2 separate regions of the Homo sapiens genome follow, and region 1 is linked to region 2. A link means that fine-mapping ties the variant in region 2 to the expression of a gene that starts in the linked region. Tissue or cell type: whole blood. Region 2 holds a variant in brackets; the other region holds the start of a gene. All regions are shown on one strand. Distances are from middle to middle.

Region 1 (4,160 bases), 34 kb before region 2:
ACCAACAGTAATAAAATATAATAAAAACAATCAAATAAACACAGCACAGACAGAAGCAGACCTCTGCCCAGGTAACTTCCACCACAATTCCCTTACCAAAGACCTCTTTCCTTATTTTGCTAAGATTAACAACTGATTTTTCAGTACTATGCCAACAACATTTCTTCTCAAGCTTTGCTGTCAATTCCATTGTGACCCACAGTTTAATTTAAAACCGATGTTGATTCACTGAGCTAGTAATTTTATTCGGTAATAGGTGAATTACTCCATAGTTGAGTGTGAATAACCGCCTGGTTAAATCAGGGCGGGTTTCTTAGAGGTGATACACTTACCGTTGAGCACAACTTTACTCTTTAATTATCGTGTACATTCCCATTTCCCTCCAAACACGTCAGTCCCTCTCCACACAGTGTTTACTTCTTTGGTCCTAGGGACAGCAAGAAACATTTTATAATAAAAGAGCACATGCTAATGTGTTTACTAGATATGACACTGCTGTGCAAAACTGTTTTCTTTTATGGCTGCACTGAAAGCATGCTAAGTTTACTGAATTCTTATTAAGTGTCCTAAGTAACAGAAATAGAAACTAGGTCTGGCCTGAAAATACCATTCACTTAAGTTAGAATTTATGTGCGCTCCTCTAGGTCCGCTATTGTAGTATCACTGCAAAACAATAATACTTTATCTCTGCACTTGTCTTTATTGGATTAATATTAAACAGAAAAAAATCCGACTGCACAGGGGAAAAAACCTAAAACCTTAACATGCATGCACATTAACAGTGACTGAAACATGATTAAAGCTAACACATTTAGCAGAAAAATGCAATCCCCAAACAAGCTCTGCGGCCCGCCTACTGAAATGCACCCGCCCGCCACTAAATGAAAATGCGCCTCAAGCTCATACACATCCTTATGTTAAGACAGTATGCACTCGATGTACTACAAATAAATTGTTTTCACGGAAATGATTCCCCGAAAGTTTGCTGCTGAACTCAGGACCCTAAGGACGTTTGCTTAGGGAATCCGTGTCCCTCGAGAACACCTAAGATGGGTATGCGTTTGTGCATTTAAAAATGCCTCAAGGAACTATTGCTGAGGAACAGAAACCATCGCCGGCGCAGAAGCGTTCGCGGACCACTTGGAGATAGATGCCAGTACAGCAATTCTGTTCCAGGAGGCTTCGGCTTAAGAGGGCCGGGGAGGAGGAGAACCCTCGGGAAATAGCAAAAAAAAAAAAAGATTTTTCTTTTTCACTCCAGCGACAGGAAAGCCTTAAAAACATAAGCAGCTCTCATACCCACCCGCCTCACCAGCCGCGCCTCGCAGTTCGACAAAATGCGTCCTAGCCTTCGCCACTCGCGACCTCTACCGCGCAGAGCCAGGCAATGAGGGAAAACAGCCAGCGAGGCCCGCCCTCCGGTGCAAGGCTCGGCATCCGCGGAGGCCCAGGGCCGGCCCCGGTGCGGCGGGCAGAAGCAAGCGCGGCGGCCCGGCCCAGCTCCGGTGGGCGGACGGCGGGACGCGCGAGCCGGCGGGGCCCGAGGCCCGGGTTCCGGGGCCGCCCGCGACTGCGTCTTTGCCGCAGAACAAAAGCGCTCTGCGCCGCGCGCAGGCCCGGACCGCGAGTGCCTCTGGCTCCCGGCTCCCGGCCCCCGCCCCGCCCGGACCCCGGAAGGCGGAGGGACCTCGGGGTGCTCGTCTCACACTTACCGACAAAGGGAAGAGGACCACCCCGGCAAGCGGGGAGAAAACCGGCGGCCTCCCGGGCCCCAGAGTTTAAGTCAAGTGGGGTCCGCCTCCAGGGGCGGGTCGAGGAGCCAGGCCCAGGATCCAGGAACAGCTACGCTCCGCCTCACGCCCGAGGCGGTGGCTGCGAGGGCCGCGCCGCCGCGGTCCTAGTGCCACCAGAGAAGCCGCGGACCCGGCCCGCAGATAACACCCGGGCTTGCAGAGCGCTTTCATCTGCCCGACGCGGAAATCTCCTGCAGCGATCTTCTACCTTCAGCGTGCATCCGCAGCACCCAGAGGGCACGTTAAAGAGAGATTGAGAACCACCAGCAAAACTGCTGATTCAGTAGGTTTGGGGTGGGGCTGAAAAATGTGCATTTCTAACAAGTTCCTGAGACCGACTGTTGCTGCTGGCCTCAGGACCAATTTTTTCTATAAAGCGCATGGAAGTCAGAGTGCACCCAAGAGATTGTTAACCCTTAAAAAACAGAAAAAAAAAAAAGAAATCAACAAGTTAGAGGCAAATAAGTGTGAAAGAAAGTGGATAGTCTATTTGGGGATTCTGAAAGTCCCTGAGGAAAGTTGACTTTGGAGACCAGATCACGAAGCACGACCTCTTAATTGCCGACCTTTTGTTATAGATTAACTCCCTTATTTTCTTGTTCCCAGCTCAGACCAGATGGCATCTGAGATAAAATACGCATTGAATAAGATAAATGACCGCTTGACTATTACATCCTTAATGTGGAATGTTAAATAGACCCTTCCCAAAAAGAAACACTGCCTTGAACCAATCAAATTGCTATGCGTTAACCTTCTATGGAAAATGTTGACATCCTGTTAAGCTTCCCAGACCCTGCCTGTGTAAACGACCCTCAAACTTCTCCCTTTCGAAGCACTGACCCCCATCTTTTGGAGTCTGTGTCCTACCGGGTCGCCATCCTCAAACTTTGCACTCAAATAAACCAATATTTAATCATATTGCCCGAATCTCATTATTAAGGTTTACGTAAGCGTTTACTTAGTAATGAAGGTTGCAACCAGGATGGCAAATCAGAGATTGTGCCACTGGAGAGGGGCAAGGGAGCTTATGTTTATAGGAATTTATTTGTTACATAAATTGTCAGATTAGTTCATTGGTGAATTAAACGAAGAAGTCTTTAGTCATTACTAGAAGAGTGCGTTTGCGTCTGTCAGAAACAAAACAAAAAAACTACATACAGAATATTCTTTCTTTTTTGGGGGGGGGACGGAGTCACGCTCTGTCGCCCAGGCTGGAGTGCAGTGGCACGATCTCGGCTCACTGCAAGCTCCGCCTCCCAGGTTCACGCCATTCTGCTGCCTCAGCCTCCCAAGTAGCTGGGACTACAGGCGCCCGCCACCATGCCCGGCTAATTTTTTGTATTTTAGTAGAGACGGGGTTTCACCATGTTAGCCAGGATGGTCTCGATCTCCTGACCTCTTGATCCGCCCGCCTTAGCCTCCCAAAGTGCTGGGATTACAGGCATGAGCCACCGCGCCCGGCCAGAATATTCTTAAAGATTGGGGGTGGCCAGGTGTGGTGGCTCAGGCCTGTAACCCCAGCACTTTGTGTCACGCGCATCCGTGTGAAGAGACCACCAAACAAGCTTTGCGTGAGCAACAAGACTGTTTATTTCACCTGGGTGCAGGCGGGCTGAGTCCGAAAAGAGAGTCAGCAAAGGGTGGTGGGATTATCTTTAATTCTTATAGGTTTTGGGAGAGGCTCCGCGGAACAATGTTTTGCGGGCAGGGGGTGGATCTCACAAAGTACATTCTCAAGGGTGGGGAGAATTACAAAGAACCTTCTTAAGGGTGGGGGAGATTACAAAGAACCTTCTTAAGGGTGGGGAGAATTACAAAGAACCTTCTTAAGGGTGGGGGAGATTACAAAATACATTGATCTGTTAGGATGGGGCAGAAACAAATCACAATGGTGGAATGTCATCAGTTAAGGCTATTTTCGCTTCTTTTGTGGATCTTCAGTTGCTTCAGGCCATCTGGATGTATACGTGCAGGTCACAGGGGATATGATGGCTTAGCTTGGGCTCAGAGGCCTGACAGTTTGGGAGGCTGAGGTGGGTGAATCACTTGAAATCAGGAGTTTGAGACCAACGTGACCAACATGGTGAAACCCTGTTTCTACTAAAAATATAAAAATTAGCCAGGCGTGGTTGTGGGCACCTGTAATTCTCAGCTACTCGGGAGGCTGAGGCGGGAGAATTGCTTAAACCCAGGAAGCAGAGGTTGCAGTGAGCCGAGATCACGCCACTGCACTCCAGCGTGGGCCACAGAAAGAGTCTGTCTCATGAAACAAAACAAACAAAAAAAGATTGGGGATCAGGCGTGGTGGCTTATGCTTGTAATCCCAGCACTTTGGGGAGGATCACTTGAGGCCAGGAGTTTGAGAGA
Region 2 (4,353 bases):
TTGAGGCTGCAGTGAGCTATGATTGTGCCACTGCACTCCAGCCTGGGCAACAGACTGAGACCCCGTCTTTTTTTTTTTTTTTTTTTTCAGATGGAGTCTCGCACTGTGGCCCAGGCTGGAGTGCAGTGGTGCGATCTCGGCTCACTGCAAGCTCCGCCTCCCGGGTTCACGCCGTTCTCCTGCCTCAGCCTCCCGGTAGCTGAGACTACAGGCGCCTGCTACCACGCCCGGCTAATTTTTTGTATTTTTAGTAGAGACGGGGTTTCACCGTGTTAGTCAGGATGGTCTTAATCTCCTGACCCCGTGATCTGCCCACCTCGGCCTCCCAAAGTGCTGGGATTACAGGCATGATCCACCGTGCCTGGCCGAAACAGTTTATTAACATGTGCCGCCTGTATACACGCCTGACCCTGTCTCTTAAAAAAAAAAAAGATTGCTTCTGTACTGAACATGTACAGACTATTTTTTCTTGTCACTAGTCCCTAAACAATACAGAATTACAACTATTTACATAGCATTTACATTGTATTATGTATTATAAGTAATCTAGAGATGATTTAAAGTGTGTAGGAGGATGTGAGTAGGTCATATGCAAATACTATGTAATTTTACATAAGAGACTTAAGCATCCGTGGATTTTGGTAACTGAGGGTGGATCCTAGAACCAATCCCACATGGATACTTATCATTTCTTACGAGTGTGACATTCGGGCAAGTGGACTTGGAAAATGATCTGGCATGGTATCAAAAATCAAGCAATTGGCTGGGCGCGGTGGCTCACGCCTGTAATCCCAGCACTTTGGGAGGCCGAGGCAGGTGGATCTCGAGGTCAGGAGATCGAGATCATCCTGGCTAACACCATGAAACCCTGTCTCTACTAAAAATACAAAAAATTAGCTGGGCGTGGTGGCAGGCACCTGTAGTCCCAGCTACTCGGGAAGCTGAGGCAGGAGAATGGCATGAACCCGGGAGGCGGAGTTTGCAGTGAGCTGAGATCGCGCCACTGTACTCTAGCCTGGGCGACAGAGTGAGACTCTATCTCAAAAAAAAAAAAAAAAAAAAAAATCAAGCAATTATCATTTACCTCTTTACAGAATTGGTATACATTTTCTTTAAATATACATAGAGTATACATATTTAAGGTATATATTTATACACACATACCTTCTCACTTGGAAGTTATGAAAGTATTTTCTAAAATTTTTTTTCTGTTAGCTTTATATCTTTATTTGGCTTAAAATTTTTAAATCCCCCCTGCCCTGCCACCAAAAGTATTTATTATTTGATATGATGTAAGGATTTTTATTTTTCTTGAAAACAAACAAAACAGCACCTGTTGAATAGTTCATCTTTCCCCACAATTTGAAAGGAAACTTTAGGTTGCTATATAGTATACATATGCACTTGAGTCTATTTCTGGACCTTATTCTTTTTCAGTGGCCAATTTGTCCCTGCTTAAATATGACAATGTTATTTTTTCTTCTTTTTTTGAGACAGAGTCTCACTATGTTGCCCAGGCTGGTCTCACAATCCTGGGCTCAAGCCAGTCTCCTCCCCCAACCTCCCAAAGTGCTGGTATTGTAGGCATGTGCCACCACGCCTGGCCAACAATGTTTTGATAGCTTTATATTTTGATATCTGGGACAGCATGTCTCCCATATTTATCCCTGTACTCAAAATATGTGATGTATGTTAATCAACTCTTCATGTTTTTATTAATAATTTATATTATTTTTAACTGGTAGAATCTAGGCATGGTCAAAAGAATAAAAGGAAAAATTAATCACACTCCCAATTCTGCATCTCAGCCATCCAGTTTGCTTCTCCAAAGGCAACTAATATTCTAGCTTCTTGGGTATCACTATATGGATATTCTATAGATCATATTTGAGTTGTTTCTATCTTTTGGCTTTTGCAAAGGTGAAATGGACATTCTTAAAA[AAAATATATAT/T]ATATATATATATATATATATATATATTTTTTTTTTTTAAGACGGAGTCTCGCTCTGTCGCCAGGCTGGAGTGCAGTGGTGTGATCTTGGCTCATTGCAACTTCTGCCTCCCAGGTTCAAGCGATTCTCCTGCCTTAGCCTCCCGAGTAGCTGGGACTACAGGTGCATGCCACCATACCCAGCTAATTTTTGTATTTTGCAGAGGTTGCAGTGAGCTGAGATCATGCCATTGTACTCCAGCCCAGGCAACAAGAGCAAAACTCTGTCTCAAAAAAAAAAAAAAAAAACTTAGCCAGGCATGATAGTGGGCAACTGTAATCCCAGCTACTAAAAACACAAAAAATTAGCCGGGCGTGGTGGCGGGTGCTTGTAGTCCCAGCTACTCAGGAGGCTGAGGCAGGAGAATGGCGTGAACCCGGAAGGTGGAGCTTGCAGTGAGCTGAGGTCACGCCACTGCACTCCAGCCTGGGCGACAGAGTGAGACTCCGTCTCAAAAAAATAAAATAAATAAATAAATAAATAAAATAAACTCAGTCATTCTGGTGGATAACACAGATAACTTTGTGGCTTTCCTCTTCACTATGGGGGATAACAGCTTTAACTGTTTGCTATTTGTAATTCCTATTTTATGTAATGCCTGCTTAAGACTTTAGCATGCTTGGGAAGAGGATGTACATCTTTTCCTGGTTTTCATTATGGATTTACAACTTTGCAAAATGTTTACATCTTTGAGCCACCTAGAATTAACTGTAATGGAAGGTAAGCTGTAGGAGTTCAACTCTCGTTTTCCAGCTGGCTACTCAGTTGTCACAATACTATTTATTGAACAATTCATCCTAGATAAATATAGAATCAATTTTTGTGCATGTCCATTTTTTATCTATTGGCAACTAATAAGAAGTAAAACCAACACTGCAGACAAGCATATGAGAGAAGGTATTTTAATTGAGATCTTTTATAAATTGCAATTTGAGAGACACAAATCGAGCAAGCAGCTAAATCATATTCCATACAGACAAGCTGGGCAGGGGCTTATAAAGGTTCCTGGCAAGTTTATACAAGTGGAAAATTTTAGCACAGTCTATGATTGACAATGGCTGATTGACAGCTTAGATGTCTCTTGGTGATGAACGACCTAATTTGGCACAGCTGTCTTCTCAGGAGATTTGTGATCAGGCCCAGTGTAAACAGTTCACATCAAATTCAGCTGCTTCTTTAGGATGTTTGTGATTTGGTCCAATTTGAACATGTCAAATTTCATCTGAGTATATGGGTGATGGGGGTCCAACTCCTTATGCCCTCCTGGCTCCTTTTTAGAGACCTCTGGCATAATCATCTCCATTTTGGATTTCTTTTCAGATTTTCCCCTTTTGATTTAAATATTTCCTTAGAAACCACTGAGATCAATTATTTCAGTAAGCCCTTTGGTTCTGGAATAGATTTGTCCCAGGAAGTCATGTCCCATGGAGGAGGGAGTCATGGTAATGATAGTGGATGATCTGTGTCAAATGGAATAGTCCAAATTTGAGCAACAAGGAGGAGTTGAGGATGTGGGCCCCAATTGTGGTGCACATATGTGGTTAGGGTAGGATTCATGATTGTAGGCCTAATCTGTCAGTTCAATGTGTTGAGCCACCATAATTTTAGTTTCGTTGACAGCAACAGTGTGGCATCAAGCTGAGAGAGGAGAAAAGAAAGAACCAGCTAGGAAGGCGGTTAGGGCAGGTGCTCAGTAGAATTCTTTCAAACAAAGGAACAACCTGAAAACTCAGGCTACAGATACAGATAAGGGAACTAGCACAGGCAGCTTGCCTAGGATATACCCATAGCTGCACAGATAAGGAAGCAAGGCCCAACATAGAAGCACCTTTGTTCTTTGTGTAAGCAGCAGCCTTCCAGGAAATAGTTTCTTTTCCTTTTGTGGGCATGTAGATGGTGGGCTGTGGTGAGTACATTCCTTTCCTTTTTTGGGCATACTTTGGACTGTGAGCCAAACCTCTATGAATCATCACTCCAACACTAGGCTGGTTGTGAGCCAAGGCTCCAGTTGGTCCTTTACACCATCATGCCATTTTCTAAGTGGTGCCTTTTCTAAAGACAACCACCAGTCAGCCAGCACACTAGGGGTACAGGGTGGAGCTACCAGAAATTCACAACTTATGCAATTTCAGTTATGCAAATGAAATGCCCAGACCCATCTGGTTCCTCTGGGTTCCTCATAACAGCCTTTGTACTCAATTGTGAAATGGCAACCCTCTCAGGTCCCCTCTCTGCAGTGGAGAGCTTTCCTCTTTCACTTATTAAACTTTTGCTCTAAACTCACCCTTGGTGTCCACATTCCTTACTCTTCTTGGTCATGAGACAAAGAGCTCCAGGTAATACCTCAGGCAACAAGACTACCT

What was found. PIP is the estimated chance that this variant, and not a neighbour inherited with it, causes the effect.
Region 1: RESF1 starts here. The variant in region 2 is fine-mapped to the expression of RESF1 in whole blood (INTERVAL, PIP above 0.99).

What each region holds. Positions count from the first base shown.
Region 1 is chr12:31,957,044-31,961,203 of GRCh38, reverse strand. RESF1 (retroelement silencing factor 1) reads right to left here and starts at 1,789. Exons shown (of 6, transcript NM_018169.4): 1 at 1,713-1,789; 2 at 333-427. LOC105369725 (a long non-coding RNA gene) reads left to right here and starts at 1,900. Exons shown (of 2, transcript XR_931503.2): 1 at 1,900-2,076; 2 at 2,400-2,711. RefSeq lists a silencer at 1,479-1,818 and enhancers at 2,871-3,664, 3,668-4,160.
Region 2 is chr12:31,922,491-31,926,843 of GRCh38, reverse strand. No RefSeq gene overlaps it. Among named protein-coding and RNA genes, the nearest start is that of RESF1, 35 kb to the left of the region's middle. The variant AAAATATATAT/T (reference allele first, on the strand shown) is at 1,942.